Linked DNA regions of Homo sapiens. Changing the gene in region 4 together with the main gene of any one other region gives a genetic interaction. Each region holds a gene or a part of one and is shown on either strand. Other genes may lie near its edges. The genes, in order: TMED10, ARMH3, CLEC16A and EIPR1.

What was found.
Region 1: changes in EIPR1 (region 4) and TMED10 are lethal when combined (synthetic lethality), as found in Homo sapiens cells (one study listed by BioGRID).
Region 2: changes in EIPR1 (region 4) and ARMH3 are lethal when combined (synthetic lethality), as found in Homo sapiens cells (one study listed by BioGRID).
Region 3: changes in EIPR1 (region 4) and CLEC16A are lethal when combined (synthetic lethality), as found in Homo sapiens cells (one study listed by BioGRID).

The regions. Positions count from the first base shown.
Region 1 is NC_000014.9:75,173,593-75,180,795, forward strand, and holds the start of TMED10 (transmembrane emp24 domain-containing protein 10 precursor), read right to left. Parts: upstream 3,021-7,203; 5' UTR 2,988-3,020; coding exon 2,763-2,987; intron 1-2,762. UniProt on the Homo sapiens protein: Cargo receptor involved in protein vesicular trafficking and quality control in the endoplasmic reticulum (ER) and Golgi.
Region 2 is NC_000010.11:101,845,071-101,850,185, forward strand, and holds the end of ARMH3 (armadillo-like helical domain-containing protein 3), read right to left. Parts: intron 4,823-5,115; coding exon 4,706-4,822; intron 2,551-4,705; coding exon 2,458-2,550; 3' UTR 529-2,457; downstream 1-528. UniProt on the Homo sapiens protein: Involved in GBF1 recruitment, Golgi maintenance and protein secretion.
Region 3 is NC_000016.10:11,178,526-11,182,688, reverse strand, and holds the end of CLEC16A (protein CLEC16A), read right to left. Parts: coding exon 3,999-4,163; 3' UTR 503-3,998; downstream 1-502. UniProt on the Homo sapiens protein: Regulator of mitophagy through the upstream regulation of the RNF41/NRDP1-PRKN pathway. Mitophagy is a selective form of autophagy necessary for mitochondrial quality control.
Region 4 is NC_000002.12:3,255,818-3,262,857, forward strand, and holds part of EIPR1 (EARP and GARP complex-interacting protein 1), read right to left. Parts: intron 1,639-7,040; coding exon 1,482-1,638; intron 1-1,481. UniProt on the Homo sapiens protein: Acts as a component of endosomal retrieval machinery that is involved in protein transport from early endosomes to either recycling endosomes or the trans-Golgi network.

The DNA.
Region 1 (7,203 bases), on a different chromosome or scaffold from region 4:
TTTGGCATTTGGGTTTAGGACCCTTGTGGTTCCATTAAGCTGGTTAGTAGCAAAAGAACAGAGCAGACACAGGAGAGCAACTGAGTGATAGTAAAGTGCTAGGGTGTGTGCACAAAGTCCTGCTGGTTTTTGTTTTGCTTTGTTTTGTTTTGTTTTGAGACCGAGTCTTGTTCTGTTGCCCAGGCTGGAGTGCAGTGGCACGGTGTCAGCTCACTGCAGCCACTGCCTCCCAGGTTCTAGTGATTCTCCTGCCTCAGCCTCCCGGGTAGCTGGGATTACAGGCACACGCCACCATGCCCAGCTAATTTTTGTATTTTTAGTAGAGACTGGATTTTAGCATGTTGCTGAGGCTGGTCTTGAACTCCTGACCTCAGGTGATCCACCCGCCTCGGCCTCCCAAAGAGTTAGGGTTACAGGCATGACCCACCAAGCCCGGCCTAAAGTCCTGCTGTTGAGGTGCCTTCAGCAGCCCTAAATTCAATGTAATTCCCATAAGGCCATGCTAAACTACAGTTCCTGTTATTTATAGAGTACTTACTAGAAGCAAGGTAACATGCTTGGCATTCTAGAAAAGATGAACCTGAAAATAGTTCCTACCCTGAGGATACTAACAGTCTAGTAAGTAGGTCAAGGCATAAACAAAAACAGTTCAGAAAATAAGTGAGTTCAGGGTACTGTCCAGGGTGGCTCCATGTAGAATGCAAAGTGGGAAGTGACCACACGTATAGCTCAGAAACAGATCATGAAGAGCACAACAAAGCATGTTGAGAAATTTAAACTATCAATAAGCAATAGTGAGCCACTGAAGGGCTTTAAAATATAAGAACAAATCAGACAGCAACACGAGATGAGAGCAAGGTCTCTTTCATTGCTGAAATTCCCTGAGTCCATGAACATCCTCTGAAGAGTTGGAAGCATGATCTCCCACCCCGGAAACACTATATCTAAGCTTCTAAAATCATGCCATCACTATTTTCCTGGGTAGAGAGTTTGATACCCAAACAGAATAATAAAATGATGGGTCACAGATTAATTGCCCTGAAAATAGTTTGTCTCTCCCAAATAAAGTAGAAATAAATTACATGTATTACCACACTACTGGGTTCCACTACTTTAACATAAGTTATGGTCTTATTATATCTGAAACCCTTTTAAAAAGTAAAAACGAGGCCAGGCGCGGTGGCTTACGGCTGTAATCCCAGCACTTTGGGAGGCCGAGGCGGGCAGATCACGAGGTCAAGAGATCAAGACCATCCTGGCCAACATGGTGAACCGTCATCTCTACTAAAATACAAAAATTAGCTGGGTGTGGTGGCTGGCGCCTGTAGTCCTAGCTACTCGGAAGGCTGAGGCAGGAGAATTGCTTGAAACCGGGAGGCAGAGGCTGCAGTGAGCCGAGATCGCGCCACAGCACTCCAGCCTGGACGACAGAGCAAGACTCCGTCTCAAAAAAAAAAAAAAAAAAAAAAAAAGTAAAAATGTTTCTATTTAGTATAACAAAAGCCCCATTGTGTTACAAAGAAAAAAAAAGACACTTTGCTTATTGTGAATGAATAAAATTACCTAAAATGCAACCAAATACTGACAGATATCAAATTATATTAATGTCTCAAAGACCAGGCCAGGCTACTCTTAGCTACAAAACAGAATCAAACTGGTATTATGGCAGTAGTTGTCACCATCCAAGAGCATAGTTGGTATTTACATAAAAGAGCCAAGTCCAGATTCTGGCATACCAAAGAAAAAGGACTAGAGACTGAGACCATTTTGTAACCAATAATCGACTTTAATCAACTACAGAAATTACAAATTTAAAACAAGGAAGGAATAAGGTTGCAGCGCTTTTCCCTCAACATACTTAACTACCAAACTAAGTAAGAATCTATTCCATCGCAAGGACAGAAAACCAAACACCGCATGTTCTCACTCATAGGTGGGAATTGAACAATGAGAACACTTGGACACAGGGTGGGGAACATCACACACCGGGGCCTGTCGTGGGGTGGGGGGAGGTGGGAGGGATAGCATTAGGAGACATACCTAATGTAAATGACGAGTTAATGGGTGCAGCACACCAACACGGCACATGTATACATATGTAACAAACCTGAAAGTTGTGCGCATGTACCCTAGAACTTAAAGTATAATAATAATTTTGAAAAAAAAAAAAGAATCTATTCCATCTGTGACACTTACTAGTTTATCCTACCTCTGAGTCTCAGTTTCCTCATTTGTAAAATGGGGCTAACAGTACCTACCTACTTCATAGGGTAGTGCATGAACCAAATGGTAATATATGCAAAGTAGCACAGTAACTGACACAGCAGATGCTCAATAAATAACATTTTATTAATCACGGTTAGCTCTGTCTCCTTTACTTTCCTGCAGGTATCGCGGTATCTTATGATGCCAATCCGTATAAATATTCAACACCCCAACATTTATTTGGAGAACCAAATTACGGTTCAATGTATCTGAGACCAAAACTGGTATAGGACGTTGACAACCGCCCCAGCTCAGGTGTCACCACATCCGCCAAAGCCTCGCAGCCCTTCTTGGGGTTCCCAGGCGTTGGTGACCCGCCCCGCCCCGCGACAGGCAACCAGCGGGGTGAGGGGGCGGGCTCCACCGCACGTCCTTTGCGCTCCCGGGAGGCCAGAACAACTCCCAGGCCTCCGCCGGCCCGACTCCCCCGAACCCGAGCCTCCCCTCGCCTAAGCCTGCCGTCTTCCCTCCCGGCCCCACGTCGCCCAATGCCGCACCTTGAGGTGGCTGCGCAGGCCGCCAGCGCCCCCAGACTGGTCGGAGATCTCGTACGCGCCAGTCACTAGCAGGTCCTTGTGAATCTCCTCACGGAGGCACTTGCGAGAGTTAATGGGCAGATGGAAGGAGATGGCAAGGACCAATCTGGGGCCGAGCAGGAACAAAAGCAGCAACGCTAACGGAAAAGGGCCGCGCCGGGCTGGTGGGCCAGACAAACCAGACATGGTGCTGGAGACTCGTTCACCACCGAAGGCCTCAACCGCGCCGGAACCGGGGGGACCCACGTGACTCACCTCTGACCTTCTGATGCCGTCCGCGCCATTTTGGAGACTGGCATGTAGAGAAAGACTCTATAGCGAATCTTTTGAAAAGGGAAGAAAGGATAGGTACCATGTCAAAACCGCAAGTTTAAGCAGTTAAAGAAGCTTTAATAGAATACTATTGCAACAGTTTTATTTTTGTTGAAGTTAGTGACTACTGAGTCGGCCATGGCAAGTATGGGCAGCCCTGGAAGTAATTCTCCTTTAATTTCCGAAAGATGTACCCACGAGTTTAAAGGCGAGTGACACCATAGCAACCAAGCCCCAATAGGAAACAGCCACAAGGCCCTTCGCTGGGCCCGCCCACCGGCCGCCTAGGCGCGAGGGCGGGGAATGAGGCTGTGTCTCCGGGGATGGGGCGGTTTGCAGGCACTCCCAAGCGCCTTTGACACCTTGATGACACCTGGGGCACTGAGACACTAGAGAGGAAAATTTCGAGGAAAGATTTCAACTTGGCTATTAGACAGTGTGGACCTTAGAGAAGAAGTTTTAGGGGTCACCTGATGAATGTGTGCCGGGCAGACATCCGGTTCATGTCCCATAGCAGGGTATTTGGGCTGGAGTAATTGTCTGGCTAACTGAATGTACATGGTATTATTATTATTATTATTATTATTATTATTATTATTATTTTAGCAAACATTGAATGTGTTCTAAGCTATATTCAAAATAAATTTGAATTTGGTATTTAAATTGAATAAAACAACATGTTTTGGTCCAGTCTCAGATGAACATAATTAAGGGGTTAGCAGATAAGCGTTGTCAGGGAAAGTGCGTATGTGTGTGTTTTAAGTTCACAAACACTTTAGGGATCAAATTAACTATTAACATTTGCAAATAGACAAGCAAATTGACACGGTAATAATTCATGCATTCATTCAATGGAGTACCTACTGTGTGCCAGACATTATGCTATGCATGTATGTCAACACGTTTATTGATTTAACAAACTATTACTGGGATACTAGCAAATATTCAGAGCTGAAGAATATATTAAAATAAACGGCCAGGCGCGGTGGCTCACACCTGTAATCCCAGCACTTTGGGAGGCTGAGGCGGGTGGATCACGAGGTCAGGAGTTCAAGACCAGCCTGGCCAAGATGGTGAAACCCCGTCTCTACTAAAAATACAAAAAAATTAGCTGGGCTTGGTGGCGGGCGCCTGTAATCCCAGCCACTCAGGAGGCTGAGGCAGAGAATTGCTTGAACCCGGGAGATGGAGGTTGCAGTGAGCTGAGATGGCGCCACTGCACTCCAGCCTGGGCGACGGAGTGAGACTTGTCTCAGAAAAGAAAGAAGGAAAGAAAGAAAATGGAATTGCTCCTTGGCCTTTTGGCTAACATCAAGTGTAGAAAATAAACGTGGAAGACACAATAGCCCATGTTGGGAATCATTACCTACTTTGATTAACGTTTATTGAGCATCTTCAGAAATATCCAGAAGATGGACTGTCTGCCCTTAGTAATGTACATGATTGGTGTTTTTTTTTTTTAAACTTAGTCCATTTAGTTATTTTCCTAGAAATGAAATCCCACAGACAAAACAAGAACAAACAAAGGAGCTGTAAAGCATTTAAAATTTTGACAAATGCCATACAATAATTATTTTATGAGGTGTCCACTTAGGAGCATTTAGTTGGATTGTTGTATCACTGATCTAAGATAAGATTGGTAGTCCACACAGTACATCCTGATAATTTGCATTGGCCTTTTCCCTGCCAATGCAGGGAATCAGTATAAGCAGTTATCTAATTCATTGTCTACTTGCATTCCTGAGGCTCTGCTGACCAATAGCAAGAGATCTCAACCCATGAAAAAACTGTGTATGTGTTTCCTTTAAATTTCCATCTTACATTTACATAATAGATAATGCAATTTAAAATATTTTCACATATCATAATGATCTCCTCTGACATTTTCAAAAACCCTGTGAAATAGTCTGGACAATCTGTTCATTTTACAGATGAGGAAACCGAGGTTCTGAGAGGCCAAATAATTATACTGTTAAAGAAAAAATACTTCATGACATTTGTTAAAGAACTGTAAAGCAGGCCAGAGGCGGTGGCTCACACCTGTACTCCTAGCACTTTGGGAGGCCAAGGCGGGCGGATAACTTGAGGTCAGGGGTTCGAAACCAGCCTGGCCAACATAATGAAATCTTATCTCTACTAAAAATACAAAAAATTAGCCGGGCATGGTGGTGGATACCTGTAATCCCAGCTACTTGGGAGGCTGAGACAGGAGAATTGCTTGAACCCAGGAGGTGGAGGTTGCAGTGAGCCAAGATCACACCATTGCCCTCCAGCCTGGACGACAGAGCGAGACTCCTTCTCAAAAAAAAAAAAAAAATTGTAAAGCAAATCTTTATTCAAGGGGGACTGCCAAGATAGGTAATACAAGGGCCTATGACAATGGGGTTTTGTAGTAGGAAGGAGAGATCGGGCTCAATTCCAAATACAAGGAAAAGTAGGGATTTACAGCCAAAAATCAGGGTCAGTGGATGGAAAATTACTAAAAGGAAATATTGGGAGTAAGGGGAGATTCTGGCTAAACTAACTTAGCAGGATTCTTCCTAAAATTGGACAATGCAGAGTCATGGAAGTCCAAAAGTCAGAGCCTATTGAGAAGACAGATCAGAACAGCGTGGGTAAAGTTTGGTCAAGGAGAGAATCTTTGTCAGTACCCCAAACCTCATAAGCTTAAAAGTGACAAAAGCAGTCTAGGGGCCTGAGCTATCCTCAGGAAGATGCTATTATTTCTTATTTTAAAGATGAAGAAACTCAGATGCACAGCAGTTACTTTTCTGTGTCACAGCTCTCAAGTCCTTTCTTTTCTTTTTTGAGATGGAGTCTGGCTCTGTTGCCCAGGCTAGAGCGCAGTGGTGCGATCTCAGCTCACCACAACCTGCCCCTCCTGGGTTCAAGTGATTCTCCTGCCTCAGCCTCCTGAGTAGCTGGGATTATAGGCGCGCACCACCATGCCCGGCTAATTTTTGTATTTTTAGAAGAGACAGGGTTTCACCATGTTGGTCAGGCTGGTCTTGAACATCCTGACCTTGCGATCTGCCCACCTCAGCCCCCAAAGTGCTGGGATTACAGGTGTGAGCCACTGCGCCCGGCTTCCAGTCCTTTCTTGTCCTGTAGTCTTACTTATCCCCATCCTCCAACACCTCCTGTCTTTCTTCCCTCCTTTATAATTTTCCCCTTAGCACTCATTACTATCAAATAAAGCATACATTTTACTTACTTATTGTGTTTATTAGTCTGTCTCCCTAACTAGAATGTCTGTTTTGTGAGGGCAGGGATTTTTATCTATTTTTTCACTGTTTTATCTTCTGAACCTAAAACAGTGCCTAGCACTTAGGTACAATAAATAATGGTACAATGAATTTAAGACTGGTACCTTAGAAAGCGCAACCACAAATTTCTCCCATTATTCTTTAGCTGTTTTCACATAAATTTGTTTAATCCATAATGTATCTAAAGCATAGGTACAGTTTCAGTGTCACCAACATGTCTATCTTTTCTTAAAAAAAATGGAAAATACACTCTTGTTTCTATATAAGGACACAGAAAAACAAACAAACAAAAACAATTCTCCTCTGTATGCTGTGGAATGGAACCAAGACTTTTAAGCCTGCACCTGTGTTAAAGAAGTTACCGGCCGGGCATCGTGGCTCAAGCCTATAATCCCAGCACTTTGGGAGGCTGAGGCAGGCGGATCATGAGGTCAGGAGGAGATGGAGACCATCCTGGCCAACATGGTGAAACCCCGTCTCTACTAAAATACAAAAAATTAGCCCAGCGTGGTGACACGTGCCTGTAGTCCTAGCTACTTGGGAGGCTGAGGCAGGGGAATTGCTTGAACCTGGGAGGTGGAGGTTGCAGTGAGCTGAGATTGCGCCATGGCACTCCAGCCTGGCGAAAGAGCGAGACTCATCTCAAGAAAAAAAAAAAAAAGAAGTTACCATTGGGCCAGACGCGGTGGCTCACGCCTATAATCCCAACATTTTGGGTGGCTGAGGCAGGCAGATCACTTGAGGTCAGGAGTTCGAGACCAGCCTGGCCAACATGGTGAAATCCCATCTCAGCTAGAAATACAAAAATTGGCTGGGTGTGGTGG
Region 2 (5,115 bases), on a different chromosome or scaffold from region 4:
TCTGGAGGAGGCTCCACAGACCTGGTATAGAGGCTGGGCATAGAAAGTGCTTGGGCAGCTCCTGTTAAGGTTGATTTCCAGGAGAGAATGGGCACTCTCGTTTGGAGTTCTGGGATAGGTATATGTGAATAAACTGGTCAAGAGAAGGGCCTTTACAATGGAGGGCAAGGAGCCCTCTGCTTAGTGCCCCATGCCCTAGACCTGTCCTCATTCACTTGGAGGAAAGGCTGGCAGGAATCCGTAAGTGGCCAAATGGGTTGGCTTGCCTCCTCAATACCACTAAGTTTGGAGATAAGGGAACTAACTCTCTTCTCCCTCCTTCTACCCAGAGGACAAGAGAGGTTACAGCTCTCCGAACCCAACTGACCTCTACTAGGGCCAGGAGACTCAGAGGAAGGAGGAGAGTTCACAAGGGCAGGTAGGGGTCCCCTAGCCAGATGGCAGCAGCACCTAGGAGATTACCTTACCTCTATCTTTGAGGAATGAGTCTGGGCAACAGAGATTAAGGAAAAAAAAAGCAACACTAAAGACAGTCCCACACAAATCAATTTTTAATAATTTCAACTTGCCACCAGCTCCAAATCCAGCTGCCTTGGGGATTTATCACCAGGGAAAACACTAAATGCCCCAGGCTGAGCTATCCATCCAGTGATCAGATGACCCAGCCTGTGATCTCTTAAGAACCTACATCTACACATGGCAGCCTGTTAGTGGCTTCTCTGGAACTAGTGCATAGCTGCTCAATGTTAGAGCCAGAACTCTGGTTCCCAGGGAGGGCGAGTATCCCAAAGAGATTTGAGGTTAAATGGATGGCAGTCCAGGTGGTCCCAGACATGCTCTCACTGCTGAATTCCTGCACTTACTCCTAGAATATACCAGTGCTGTTTGCTCCCGCCATCCTGAGGGCTTTAGAAAGTGCTTTAAAAAGGGAGGATCTCGAAGCAGCAGCTATTTCAGAGGCAGCTGTTGGGAAAGCCTATAGTGGTTCCATGGAGGCTATCCAAGGGAGGAACCACAAGCCAACTCCCCATAAGTCAGGAGATTTGCCTGTGGCCCCACCCAGAATCTGAGCGGACAGAATGGAGGCCTTATGCATGATGCTCACCTGGCCTGTTTCAGATGGAGGGCACCCTACCCCCAGAAAGTTCTCTCCCTCCCAGGCACTAGACCATGACAGGAATAGATTCCTCCCCAGAGGAAATTCTCAGGCAGGTTGGATGTAAACAACAGCAGGGTAAGGGGGTGGAACACGTGGAGGGGAGCTCAGCAGAGGCAGGAGAGGCTGCCAGAGGAGGGGGGGCTAAGGGAGGTGGGGGAGCTGCTGGAAAGGGAACCAGCAAAGTAGGCACCTTGAGGGCTCCAGAAAGCCTGTCAATGTTTATTTCATACACACCCTAAAGACAGTAAAGCAGATTAGAAATTAAAAGTTAAGGTGGTGACCCTATTGTGCTGATGAGTCAAATGGGCCAGAAGAAGGGGAAAGCTAACGGTACTCCTGGTGCCAAAACTAAAATTCAAAAGGCGGTGACTGGACAGCAGAGCACTGGGCAGATTCTCATCTCCAGTTTTCCCAGAGAAGTCAATTCTGAATTCAGAAAATAGGAAAACTGGCTGGGTGTGGTGGCTCACGCCTGTAATCCCAGCACTTTGGGAGGCCAAGGTGGGTGGATCATGAACTCAGGATATTGAGACCATCCTGGGTAACATGGTGAAACCCCATCTCTACTAAAAATACAAAAAATTAGCCGGGCGTGGCACACGCTCCTGTAGTCCCAGCTACTCGGGAGGCTGAGGCAGGAGAATCGCTTGAACCCAGGAAGCGGAGGCTGCAGTAAAGCCGAGATCACGCCACTGCATTCCAGCCTGGGCGACAGAGTGAGACTCCGTCTCAGAAAAAAAAGGAAAAAGGTACCCTATTCCTATCTTACCCTAAATCTGAGCCAAAGGTCCCGATGACTGGACAAAGTGCCAGTGCAGGCAGGGGACACAGATTTCAAGCCAAGCACAGCCCCAGGCCCAAAGGAAGCAGGATGTAGCTCCAGCTATATCTGAGAGTTGATCTGTTTTCAGAAGCCGAGCAGAGCCACTGACTTTCAGGGTGCTGGCATTACCCTGAGGCTTGCCTCACCAGCTCCCGAAAATTAGTCAGTAGCTACAGCTTGTAACCTCAAGATTGGAAATGTGAGGGGCTGTTTAGGGAGCCCACTCTGGAAGTCCCCACATTCCTGGAGGCCTCTCCCCACTGTGCCCACCCATTCCTCCCCAAATAAGATTATCCCTGGCTTGACCCTCCTGCCCCTGCTGCCCAAGCTCCATTGAAGTGCGGTCTTCACCAAGAGAACTTGGTATCTGTGTTTCTCTCCAACCTCGGGGGCAGCCCCCTCTCCCCTCGCTCCCCCTCCAGCCCATGATCCTCATGGGTAAGGGCAGTCAGAGGCTGCTCAGGTAGGCGTGGCCTCAGGAGATAGTGGAGAACTCCTTGAGCAGGACTTCTTGGCTGAGTGTGTGGAAGGCCAGGTTTCTCCGGACGTTGGTGCTAATGGATCGAACCTGGGAAAGGGTAGTTGGGGAAGGTGGGAGGGCGCAGCCAGAGAGAAAACAGGAGAGAGTCAGTTCTAAACGGCAGAGGACAGTGCCTGCTACACGGGGCACTAGAAGTCTCTCTCTTAGGAAATGAACCCTTAACAGCTATTATCCCTGCAGGCAAATGAGCAAACAGTTCCTTGACAGCAGGGAAGGAGAGAAGAGGGGTGGACAGGAACAAACTCTGGAGGATGTAAGAAGAGCATCTGGGCTCCTGGGGAGGTAGAAGCAGGCACAGACAAGAAAGGAGGGCTGAGGCTGACATCTGTCTCTGCTTTGGCTATGCAGAAGGGGGACTGGGCTGCTCAGTGATCTGATGGAGGAGGAGAAACTGAGGCCAGAAGACTCATGCTCTAGCACCACCTCTCTTTAGATGTGTTTCTAGTCTCTTCACTCTCCCTTTGGATTTATTTACATTTTGGGGTTAGAAGGAGCATTTAGAGATGCAGTCCTTTTCTGGCACAGATGGCAAGAGTAGGATCCAAGGAGGCCAATTTCAATGGCCAGGGCCAGGTGACATTGCTAGTGAGTCCCAGCTTGGGAGCAGGGCCGAGGGTTCTTAACTCCTAGTCTAGCACTCCTTCTAAAGATGCCTGCCCACTCGAGAGGAAAGTCTGGGGCGTATCCTTGCTGTGTGCCCACTGCTCACCTCACATACTCTCTACCCACAGAACCCTAACCCAGTGTTGCCTGGGTCAGCAGGGTAAAAGCCTGTAGAGAAAGGGTCAGAGGGCCCAAGTCCCTACTCTGAGAGGGTTCCAAGAGGAATCTGGCAGACTCTTCAAGGAGATTTCCCCACAGGAAATAGCTGTGTAGATTGCCTGAGAAACAAAAAGGGGAAGGAGGAGGAGAGTGTGTCTGCCCTGGGCCCCAAAGTCTCAGGAGCTTTCCTTCAATTTCTGCTATGCTATAGGAAACTTAATGAAGTCATCAGGAAGGAAGCAGAGGAAAGGGCAGCATGGCAAACAGCAGGAAACTTGAGCTCATTAGCTCCAAACTGGACCAGACCCTCTTTGCTCCCCTGTGCCAGGGGAACAAATATGAGCAGAACTGAGTAAGGCCGTGGTGAGTGTCTCAGAGCCTCGAGACACCGCTCCCGTAACCCTCTCCAGCTCCTCACAGATTGCTCTCTGTTAACCATTTGCTCCCAGAACTTCCTCCACATCAACTTAAAGACTTGCCAACCATCCCATAAAAATGTTCCACTCTGCTATCACTTTACACTAATGGTTTCTGTGTTCCAAACTAACTCACCCCAGAGCATGTCTTCCTGACCCTGTGGAAGTCCAAAATCCTGAGGAATGTCATGTCAGGATCAGAGTTGGGCTGTGTTTAGCACAAGACAAACGATCTAATACGCAGTGCCTTCACCACAATTGGCATGGGGTAAGTAAAAGCTGAGCTGACGCAAGTTCAGCCCCAGCAGAGGGAGGTCTAAGGACAGGGGAAGTGGGTACAGAGGCCTGCAGGTCCTGGTCTCAGTCCCCAGCCAGGATGTTTGTGTAAACCAAGCTGGTAGGGTTACAGGACTGCAGGGGGGCTGAGCTTTTCTTGAGAACAGCTCAGAGTACAGGGCAGGAAAGGGACCATCAATAGGGCTAGCTCTGTGGAGACACTGACTGGGAACTTAAGTAGGAGGCAGAGCAAATGCTCATGGCTCCAAGTGCCCAAGGGTGGGGGCTGCAGGAAGCTAAGTGATTGGAAAGCAGGGAATGGAGACTGGAGAACTAGATTGGGAGGGGACTCAGACCAGCGGCCAGTTAGGAGTTTAGGAAGACGTGATTCCATAAGAAGGGGAAGAATTAATTACTTTTATTAGTTGCCCTGAGGACAGGTTAAGGAATAATGAGCCAGATCTGCTGCTGGGAACACACGTCAAACCCCAGGCCCAGCTGGAGCTGTGCAAGGGCTGTCTCCATGGCTGCAAAGGAGAAGTAGGCAATACTACCTCGAATAGCATCTTCTCTTACTGCCTGGTACAATGGGGGAGAGAAGTTGCATACCCCATCCCAGCAGACCCCTCAAGTCTTGTTTTATCTGCAGATAAACTGCAGATAAACTGCAGAACCCAGTGGCTGGGGGCGGGCCCCTAAGACACAGGCAGAGGCGGTGGGGCACTCACCAGCTCTTTGAAGAAGGCAGCTTCCTTGTGCTGCTCTGAGTAGCGCTCATACTGGTCCAGGCCATCCTGCAGCTTCAGCGTGAGCGTGTCATAGTTGGCTCTCACCACCTCCAGCACCTGGAGGACATCAAGGGCCAGGCAGGGCTTAGGCCATGCAAATCCCACAACCCTGAGCCCCATTCTGCTGATCTACTGGGTTGGGTTTGGTCTGTGACAACACCCCCAAGAAACCTTGCTTATTACTTATCTTCCAGAAAACAGCCTGGCTACAGGGAGCGATGCCTCAGGTTTCTGGGACCACTTTCTCTCTCTCTCTTTTTTTTTTTTTTTTTTTTTTTTTGAGACTGAGTCTTGCTCTGTCGCTCAGGCTGGAGTACAGTGACGTGATCTCAGTTCACTGCAACCTCTGC
Region 3 (4,163 bases), on a different chromosome or scaffold from region 4:
ACGCTGGTGGACGTTGGTGTTTCCGAGTCATGTCCACCCCCGCACTTCACCTCTGTCCTCGGTGGGGAGCCTTCCTGCTTCCCTCGGCCCAGCCTGGCAACAATGACGCTGCTCGCTACGCTTGTCCTGCGAGGTAGGGCTTGGCTGTCCAAATCCACAGATGCAGAGCCTGAGGCTTGGATGGGCAGCCACCTGCCCAACAGGGAAAAGATGCAGAATGTGGACCACGCTCCCTGTACCCGGCAGGGGTAGGGCGGGGACATTTCCTGATGGTGCCAACTGCCCCTTAGCAGTTATTCCCGGGTTGTATGAGCCCCGACAACCTCTTAGGAACCTGGGGATGGGAGGGAACCTGGTGCGGGGAGGAGGGAGAGGGAGGGGCTCCAGCCACCACACCCCTGCCAAGCAGCTGCGCCGGGATGAGGGGTCATTGGCTGGGAACCTTCCCCTGTGCCAGGCCACGGCCTCCTGCCACAGCCCCCAGGAGCAGCACGCTACATTCTTGGTAACTTTTTTTCTCTTTTATTGCCAAGTTTAAATTTACAAGGAAGTTCCAGTTTTCATTTCCACCCTCGTGTTCAGTACCCACGAAGCATGAGTCATGCTGGCGAAAGCAGGTACTTCCCTAGAGCGGTCCCGAGGCTCAGAGGCATCGAGGTTTTCTAACCCTCGGTTCTCACTGGGACAAAAATTATTTACATATTTTTAGCTCAAGGAAACATAAGGAACTCGTACAGTGTAGGCCCAATGTCAAGATGACTACATTAAATGCTTCAGATTTATTTATTGCATCTAGACAAGAAGATCAAAATCAGTTCACCCCACGCCTTTTTAAAAAACGGTGCATCTCAGAGACCTTAGAGGAATCTAGCGCGTCTGGCAGGGCTGCGCTTCTTCACCTGCCCCTTAGGTTGCTTGTGAACGCAAGTGTCTGGGTTGTGGGAGGCTGCCAAGGCTCCGGGAGAGGGACTGGGCTGGGACAGCGGCAGAGGAGGGGCTGCTCACGGAGGCCCCTCCTCCCAATCCCACGCGATGGTGAAGGCTGGCCCTTCCTGCCTGGGGGAGCGCCTCAGCTGGCCCCATCTGACCTGCTGGGACAGGTACCTTGCACGTCCAGAAAGGGACGAGCACACCTCCACAACAATATTCAAAGCCAAGGTTTGGGAGTTCCTGCGGCCAGCCCTGCTCCCTGACTTGGCAAACCCAGCCGGAGGTGCACAGGGGAAGGGTGGACCAGGGCCTGGGCCATAACTCTAAGTGCTCTCTGCAGGGACTTGGGGGGCGGGCCGGATGGGTCTGTGGGGGCTGACCTCAGACCTCTGAGGCTATGACCTGAGTGTCAGAAGCCACAGCCCCCACTGTGGGCCTTCCCACACTCCTGGCTCTTCCTCTGGATGCCAGGGGCCCAGCGTGTCCTGTCTGGACTGGCCTGTCTGGGAGCGCCCCAGCTATGAGGTTTGACGGGAGCTCCTGAAGACATAGCTGTGCCCACTGCCGCTGAGACCTGGGTGAGGTGGGGTCCTTTGAAGCCAAAATGGCTGGTGGCCTCCAATGGGCTGGCTCCCAGACCTCCTTACATAAGCAAAGCTTCTGGGAGCCCTGGTTATAGGAAATCCTCACCCCACACACCTGGAGGTGTCCCCCAGACGCAAGTTGCCAGCCCCAGCTGAAAGAGGCCCCTGAGAGTGACCCTGCAAGCCCACATGGGGACTGCCCTTTTCTTGGCCAGGGATGCAGGGTAGAAGCCCTGCCCTGAGCAGTGTCTTTTATCCTCCGCTGGTCCTCCCAGTCACCTTTAATCCTCTGCTGGTCCTCCCGGGCATGCTGTCCAGCCCTGACCAAGACCTCTCTCCTTCAGTGCTCAGTGGTTACAAGACCAGTTGGAGCCCAGAGACTTCTGACAGCAGGCTGGTGGCCCACCCGTGTGGCATGGAGTGAGCTGCAGGCTGTTCCTCCTGGTCACGCCTTGGGGTGGGGCAGCCACTTGCCTTCTCTAGTTTCTGCTGCCCCACAGACAGAGTCATTTCAAAACCAGAAGTGCATGTCTCAGGGGCTAGCCATCTCCAGCCAGGGCCAGCTTGATCCTCTCTACCCCTCTTGCTCTTAAAAAATTAAGCAACACACAGGCTGCCTGCTGGGTGTGGCGTGTCCCGTCTCCTGATGCTGTGGTCCTTCTCTCCATGATGGTCTTCCCCCCGCTCCACCCTGCCTTCCTTCTCTTCCAGGGATTCTGCAGATGGCCACGGTGGTCGTGGTTTGTCCTTCCTTTGGGTTTCTGCCCATGTGGCCCCCTTTCTGAGCTGTGCGTTTTCTCTATGGAAGCAAAGGTCCTTGTACCTGCAGCCATGAAGGCTGGGTGGGCACAGCTACCCAGAGGGCTTCTAAGGACTGAGGCCTGTCCCCATGGGCGCCACTCCCCCTCCTTGGCAGGACTGTGTTTCCTTCATGAGGTTGAAAACTGCCCTCGGCAGGCCTTGCCGGGACAGCTGGCTGGGCCGAGGAGACAGAGACCATGTTCTTCTAAAATGCAGGTGGCAAAAGATCTCAGCGCGGCTCCCGAGACTACCCTATGGCCAGGCTCCGGCGGATACCTAATGCCCCTGGTGGGCACATCTGCTGGCAGGTCTGGAGGAAAGTTGTGGAAGGTCTCACCAGTGACCAGAGAGGTGAGGGGCCGCTGGCCCTGGTGGACTTGGGGAGGGTGGATCACGGCCTGGGCTGTGAGTGCTGTGTCTGGCTCCCGAGCTGGCCGAGTAGAAAGGAACATCTTGGGGGCTGTGTCTGATGCATCTGGGTCCTTGCTTGTACACACCCAGTCCGAATGGGGAAGGGAACCATGGGGTTTCCATATTCAGATCAGCAGCAGTAGCAGAGGGAGAGTGACAGACTCAGAGCTCTGGGGACACCATGCCCTTGCAGCTGGAGGGGAACTGGCTCTGGGCCATCTCTCGGCACATGTGGGCACACACAGTCGAGGGCAGGTGACGTAGAGGGTGTCTTCCTTTGATTTCCATCATGGCCACAGGGTCGGGAGTCTTCACGGTCCCAACTGGTTCCTTCTTAGAGATGGTAACACTGAAGAAGGTGCTGGAAGCTGTCTCTGTTTGGTTTTGGTGAAGAGAAATGAGGAAGCGTCCTGAGTGGGGAGCTGGCTACATTCCTCCTTTTCCTGGAGAAATCTTTCCATGATGGGAGGCCTCTCGGCTGCTATAGCAGAAAACCATTCAGCCCTCTCAGCTCTGTGTGTACCTGAGAATACATGTATCTCCCTTGTTTTTGTTTAAAAAATAATCCAAACTTTCCAGGAAGGTACTTCATTATTCCACAGGCTTGCAGAGTTAGTGAGTAACAAAGAATCACTTAAATAAATGGAAAAAGCCACACTAAGAACTCTGAAACAAAATATCAGGAAAGGTCCAGTGAAAATGATCATGAAATCTTAACTGTTATTATTACACTTTTCACATGACATCAAACCTTAGTGTTGATGTTTTTGGACTTCTTTTAAATAGAAGTTTTAAAAATAAATGTTCACCTGCTGCCAAAAGCGGAAATAAATATCCAAAGGAGATGTTTATCTAAGTCTGCTTTTCTACAAATTTCTACGTACAGTGACCTGGTCCAATTCTTCTGTGCACACTGGGGCTGGTGACAGAGGAGCCATATGACAGAGGAAGAAAGAGGTGCCGGTGGGTCCTGCCACCCGGGGCTCAGAGACACGGAGCCCAGGCAGCTCCCTGAGTGGCCGGTGCAGTCATCTGCATTCGCCGCGGTGTCTCCGCTGGTCCCAGCCTGCACGTGAAGAGATGCAAAGTGAAAAAGGAATTCAAGGACAACGTGGGGCTTCTTCCCATTCAAGGGAGCGCAGGGATAGGTGGTTGAGATGGCTGCTGGGGGCCGCACAGAATGGTGGGTGCTCCCAGTGTGTCTTGCCAGTCAGCGGCACTGGGGTCCCTACCAGCGGGGCCACACACACAAAGGGAGGCCCCGGCACTGACTCAGTCCTCAGCGGTGCCCACAGGCTCAGCACATGCAGCCTCTTCGCCCACGGGCTCTGTGCAGGCGGCAGCCGGCGTGGACAGCGGGGGCATGCCGGTGAGGCTGCGGAGGCTGTGGGGGTCAACTGGGGGGACAAGGGTCAGCGATTCGACGCTCAGCGTGTC
Region 4 (7,040 bases):
AATGTGCACACATACGTGTGCACAGAGACACAAGCACAAATGTGTGCACATGTGCATCACACACATGCGCACAAATGTCTATTTGCTGGGGATGTGGCAATCATTTGAAATGTGGAACTCCTAACAGTGCTGTGTGGTTTGCACAGAGATCCTGCATTCGGGCGGGGAGTGACAGCAGTGGCAATCACTCCTGGGGACTTTGGGACTCTTCATCTGCCTCCCCTTACTGTGCAAGACTGGCTGTGATTTTAATACTCAGAGCATCTCCGTAAGAAGAAATATCCACCGACGTGGTAGAAGCACAGCAAGTATAAAAATAATTCCACCACAAACTGATACACAGAGAGCATCCGGAGCCACAGACTGCCTGACCCTCAGCACTGCTCTCCTCCATACCTGACGAGGGAAACCTGAGTCGGTCCTCAGTCCCCGTTCCAAACTCCACCTCGTAAGCGAATCCCTCTTCAATTCCTCTAATAACAATTAATGGCTGCTCCTTCCGGGGCCACAGCGTACAGTTCGTAATGATTTCGGGGTACGCCACGGCTGGCCCAGCCACAGTTAGTTGTGTACACCCTGGGTCTCCCCGTGGAGATCATGACTCTCGGAGGCCGGGCCCTCTAACTTGTCACCTTGGTGTCCCTGGAGCCTGGCAGGGTTTCTGTAGCAGGTATTTAATAAGTATTTGTTGTATTAAATTTATTTAATTGGTAGAACTGACGAGACAGAAGTCACTGTACAAACGATTTGTCTCTTGCAGACACACACGCACATGTGTATGTGTTAATGCATTAAGTAAAACAATCACTATCGTTATTGTAAACACTCATAACAACAGTATGCCCCCGCAATCTCCTTTAGAAAATACGGCTTCTTAATTTTTACCAAGGCCTCAGGGCCTTCAGAGAGCAGCTGTGACTGCCGTGGAGAGGTCCCTGGGAATGACCAGTGGGTGCACACAGCCAGGCCTCCAAGCTCATGAAGCAGCGACTGGCCAGGGAGCCACGTGAATGACACACCACATGCCGGACACGGGCGGGCTTGGGCACGCAGCCCCACAGGCACACCACGCATTCATGCTTTGTCCACGGGAGGAAGGGATTGTAAGCCTCAACCTGAAGTGGTAAATAATTGCCATGTGAGTGTGAATAAGTGCATGCTGACCAAGCTGAAAAGCCACACAGCGCTCGAGGGCAGTGCAGTGCCTGACCCTTTACCCTCTGGCAGGTCCCCACGGGCAACACTCCTCTTAGATGAAGAGGAGAAAGTGGGGATGCAGGCGCGCTGGCTACATTTCTGTCAATGCGGCTAATCTAGAAAACACAGGGACTAAAATTAAAAATCAAATTCTCGCAGCTTTTTAAAAGAAAGGAGCGTTTCCGAGGTGTGGACGGTGGCTCCTGCAAAGGAATCTGCACAAGCTCCTGCACCTGGCCAACCTGCAGGCTCGTTCTGGGCGCATGAAATATGCAAAATCCTACCAGGCCATGTTGCCATGGGCTGTGTTGTCAAGGTGACAGAGCAGCTCCAGGGTCTGTGCAGTGCTGGATGAATCATCAGGGGACTCGTGGCTGCCTGATTCCAATTCCTTCGGCATCCTCCACACGGCTGCACATGTCAGGACTTTGCTGTCTGAAGCTGAGCAACAGAGCATAATGGATAATGTCAACAGAGCACGGTGTGCCCCGCATTCTGCAGACAGCACACGCACATTTACACAAATCCATAAGCAGCGCGCATCTGCTCTTTAAAATATGTACGATTGCAGGCAGCAAAGACGGAGCAGGGAGAAGCACAGCCTGAGTCGGCAGGCAGAACCCGGCACGGTTCGTAATCAGCATCCTGTTCCCCACTTTCTCTTTGTTTTAAAAACCATCATGCTGTTTCAAAAGAAAATTTAATTTCCTCAAAATCGATTTCCTTCCGTTCTTCTTCAATAGTTCTTCAAAAAAGGGAGCAAAATGGGGGACTAAAGATATAATCACCACGCACGCAGCTGGTGTCTAAGGTTGGCATTAAACGGGTTTTCTCTCCATAGCTGTATGAGATCACCTTAAATGACTATTAGGCACACTGAGCGATATTCCATTCGGAAATCCTGTCACGCATGTTATTCTGCCTCAGTTTACCTAAAGTGATGAGTATCTGGGACCGGAAGGTAATGCCATTCAGAGGCATCGCATGCTGAGGCCTGGAGCCCTGGTGGGCAGCAGGTGGCAGCCCAGCCTGGTCATGTCACCATCAATACAGCCTCTTCTCCTAGAAATGAGAGTGCCATCCTTACACGATCCTGCTGGTGGCTGCTCGGTCTCCCTGAGTCTTGATACTCTATTTTCAAGATGCTCCAGGAATCTAGAGTACCTAGAAAAGCCACTTTGTGGATAGAGACTCAACCTGCATTAGAAAGACTGGGGTCACTTGTTTCCAAGGAAGGTCTCTGATGCTCTAGAAAATTTCTCAATATGATAAATTTTTTAAAAATTAGATTTAACATTGAATTCTTGAACATAAATCCTTTCAGAATTTGCTTTCCATTTAGTTTTCAATTGAATATGTGCTAAACACCTCTCCCTTTTAAAGATGGCCTTTAATGAATAATCATAAACTAGCAAACAGGATTCAACATTAAATCATCAATTGATAACAAGTGAAGAACATAAAAATATTATATATTGCGTTAGAACATAAAAAAACATTTCATGGGTAGTACAAGAAGGAAAACAGCATGGCATTACAAAATAACAACGACCTTAGGTTACAATCGAAAATGTATCACTTACTGGTGATGATGCTCTTGCGATCTCAATATCAACTAATCGACCAAGCAATATAGCAACGAACTCAATGACAAAATATCTAACTTTGTGAATATTATTAATACCATTGTTAACCATGATTGAATGATAAGAAGTTAAAAGATTAAGACTTCAACCAGGATTTTCTGATTCCAAATTCAGTGACCATTTTATATACCATATTGGGTCTAAAAGAACATGCAATTATGGCTTAAAGAAAAAAAACTCCATCATATATTCATATAATGTTCACACTTCCAACTTTACAAAAATGGAGTGTACAGACAGTTCTGTCTACAAGGGAATTTTATTTATTTATTTATTTATTTATTTGCTGAAATTTTCAGTTACACGATCTTTCTGCAGAGCCCACGAGATTGGCAATGGCACTCCTGGAAACACAAAAATAACCAAAGGGAAAGTTGGCAATTTGGAGTAGGAAAGAAAAAAATGAATGCCTAACCCACTAGCACACACTAACCCAACAGAGGTGTAGATTATCTTAATCTTTCTAAATGGTAGAAAAATACATGTCTAATCTTACAAGTTATAGAACTAATAATGGGAGCACTAAATTGTGGCTGCACTTCAAAATGAATGAAATACACAAGATGACAAAGGCAGGGAATAGTAAAAACAGCTATTCTGTGGAAGAAATGACTAATGGCAGACACTCCCCCCCACATCCCCAACAAGTTCCTTCTTTGGAGAATTCTGTTCAGGTGTAAAGAAAGTGACTTTCCTGTAAACGCCAGCTCACCAAACTCCTTAACTATATCCACGTTGCCCTCAATAAAGCAAAAGTGGTACAGGTGAAGTAAGATTTTCCACTCTCAGGTAAGCTACCTCCCTTCAAAGTCTACACCAGATACAATGTTTAAGTGACCAGCTGGACAATGAAGTTTCCACGTATCCGGTTCATGTAGCGCTATTCACCTCTCTCCCCACAGTCCATCAACTTCACAGAGTAGAGAAGGCAATGGAGGAACCTCCAAGAAAATATAGATAAGAGAATCTACACTCACTTCAACTTTTACTCCATTCTGAAACCCTTCTAATGTTGTAACAAAGAGGGGTTTTTCTTTCTATTTTCTTTTAAAAACATAAACCCACAAGGATAGAAGAGCAATGAAGTTTTGGAAGCTGGAAAGAAACAGACCCTTAGAAAGATGGTCACTTGTTTTACTACAAAAATAACACTCAAGAGTGGAGAAAGGATGGTCTTTTCAATAAATGATGCTGGATCAATTGTATATCCATATGAAAGAAAATAAACTTGTATCCTACCTCATAACATACTCAAAAACCAATTCCAGCTAGACTGATGATAAAGACGTAAAGATAAAATAATACAAATCTTTTCAAGAATACATAGTAGAATATCTTCTCAGCCTTGGGACAAGCAAAGATTCCTTAAATGGCAGGAAAAAAAGCTGGATCATACAGAAAAAGACGAATAACATAGAATCTATTAAAATTAAGAACTTCTATTCACCAAAAGACCCTATTAATTGGACTTCATTAAAATTTAAAACTTCTTTAAAATCAAAATGAAAAACTCTGCTTTCAGAAAGACACTATTAAAGAAATGAAGCAGTGGCCGGGCATGGTGGCTCACGCCTGTAATCCCAGCACTTTGGGAGGCCAAGGCAGGCGGATCATGAGGTCAGGAGTTTGAGAGCAGCCTGGCCAACATGGTGAAACCCCGTCTCTACTAAACATATAAAAATTAGCTGGGCATGGTGGTGGGCGCCTATAATCCCAGCTACTTGGGAGGCTGAGGCAAGAGAATTGCTTGAATCTGGGGGGTGGAGGTTGCAGTGAGCTAAGATTGTGCCACTGCACTACAACCTGGGCAACACAGCGAGACTCCATCTCAAAAAATGAAGGAAGGAAGGGAGGGAGGGAGGGAGGGAGGGAGGGAGGGAAGGAGGGAAGGAAAGAAAGGAAAGAAAGAAAACAAAAGAAAAGAAAAGACAGACTGGGGGAGATATTTATAATACATATATCTGACAAAAGGCCTGTATCCAGAATAAATATAAAGACCTCCCACAGCTTAATAATGAAACAACCCAATTTTTTTAAATGTACCTTACGCCAAATCAGACACTTCACAAAAGAAAACATATGAATGGTCAACAAGCACCAGAAAAGATGCTCAACATTATTAATAATTGGAAGGAGGCAAAGTGAAACCATGTGAGACTCACCACACATCTTACTAGAGTGGTGAAATTTTCATTTAAAAAAGACCAACAATAGCAAGTATTGGCAAAGATGTACAGTAACTGGATCTCTCACGGATTGTGAAAAAAGAGTGTAAAACAGTACACACATTTTGGAAAACACTTTTGCAGTTGAACATTCACTTACCAGATGACCCAATAATTCCACTCTTAGAAGAAGCTGTCACAAAGCTTGGCTTGTTGATAATAAGCTTTGTCCAGCTTTCTGACTTGGGCAGTTAAACCCAGCCCCAAGTAAATGTGGTCGGGTGACGGTATGTAACTGCCAGAAGTCAGGGGGTGGCAATTATCATAATGACCAACGAGACCAGAGTGCCGGCCAAGGAAGCTCAACTGGCAGAGGGCTGTGGAGACAGTTAATAGAGTTGGTATTCCTAGGGGTGAAACAGACAAGGCATTCAAGGAGAGTACTGCCTGCCTGACACATGCACACATGAGTGCAAACGTACATAACGTACATACATATTAAAAAGAAAACAAGAATGAATGAGCAGAAGGCTGAGGGAAGTCACCCCACTCACAGTCACAATCCCTTACCCAGATCCAGATTTGAGGCAGCTTCAGAGCTGGAACCCACTGACGGTAAAGATGGTCAGATTCCCCACGGGTTAGGAACCTGCAACCCTAGGGCAGGTGTACACTGCAATGATTACCCTAGTCTGTACCCAAAGGGACCCACGGCCATTTTCCTGAATGCCATTCCCTGGGCAAAGGGTAATCCCCACACATTTCCAGGTCTGCTGAACACAAAGACACGCACAGGGGTCCAGCAACCCAGTGTCCCACTGTCCTCCGGCCCGAGTGGGGCATGGGGATGCCAGGTGATAAGTAAAGTCCTAGGCAGGGCCTGGCTTACCGCAGATCCTCTGAGTCTGTGGGCGCACCTGGTGGGCAACTCCAAGGTCTGTTAAGGTCAAATGGGATTGACATCCTGGGCAGTTTGTGAAATACCCATACCGGGCCTGTGACCTGTGGAGTTAATGGGAAGGTCACATAGAAGCCTCTGAAACTGCCTCCCCGTCCCAACCCATCAAAGAGTGGTAGAGACCTGCGCTTACTTTAAGAATCAAGGATATGAAGTGGGTGTGGCTTTGCTGAATTCACCATTGGCTTCTGCAGAAAGCTAATGGGCCCTGGAGAATGCCTGTGGATGACTCTAAGCTCAACAAAGCAGGAGCCCACTCAGATCCACAGTGCCAGCTGTGGAGTCTTGTTAGAGCAGATTCCCAGGCCCTCAGGCACATGATGTGTGTACACAGACCGTCAAATGCACGCTGTCCTATCCCAATGAAGAAAGAAGATGAGAAACCATCCGCATTCACAAGCAAAGGAAAACAGTATACACTCTTGCCACAGAGCTGTGCTGGTCTCCCATTTTCTATCATAATATAGTCCAAACAGACCTGGGCAGCCCACAGAACATCACATGGACCCACTGCATTCATGACATTACAGTGACAACGTAGGAGGAGCGTGCAGAAGACCTTGGCAAGACGGCAGGAAACACAAGCTATGGCAATTCCAGGACCTGCTACTTCTGCTGAGGACACCAGGACTTCCCCTCCAGAGCAAAAGCAGAAAAGACGCTGTAATGCCTGCCAGCCCTCTTCATTCTAGAGGTGACACATTATACACCTAGGAAGGCTGGACCAGCCCAGATGCTGGGGTAGCACGTAAGGCTGCCAGCTTAGGCCAAGAGGGCACTACAGCAAGATCAGGCTGGGGAGAGGCAGCCCTGCTTCTGGGGACGCCTAGTAGACCTGCTGGTGTGGAAGTTGTCAGTGGTAGAAAGCATGCAGTGTGGACTTTGTGGAGAGCCCGGTTGGAGTCACCACGTGGTCCCGGGGTTCTGGAGCAAGCCATGCCATCTGCAGCACAGAACCATGTCTTTTGATAAACAGCTCTGACCATGCCTCTGGGTCCTGATAATGGAGCTCCTGGCCATGGGGCACCAAGTGCCACGTGTCACTCATGAGAAGAGCTCAGTCATACCCACCAC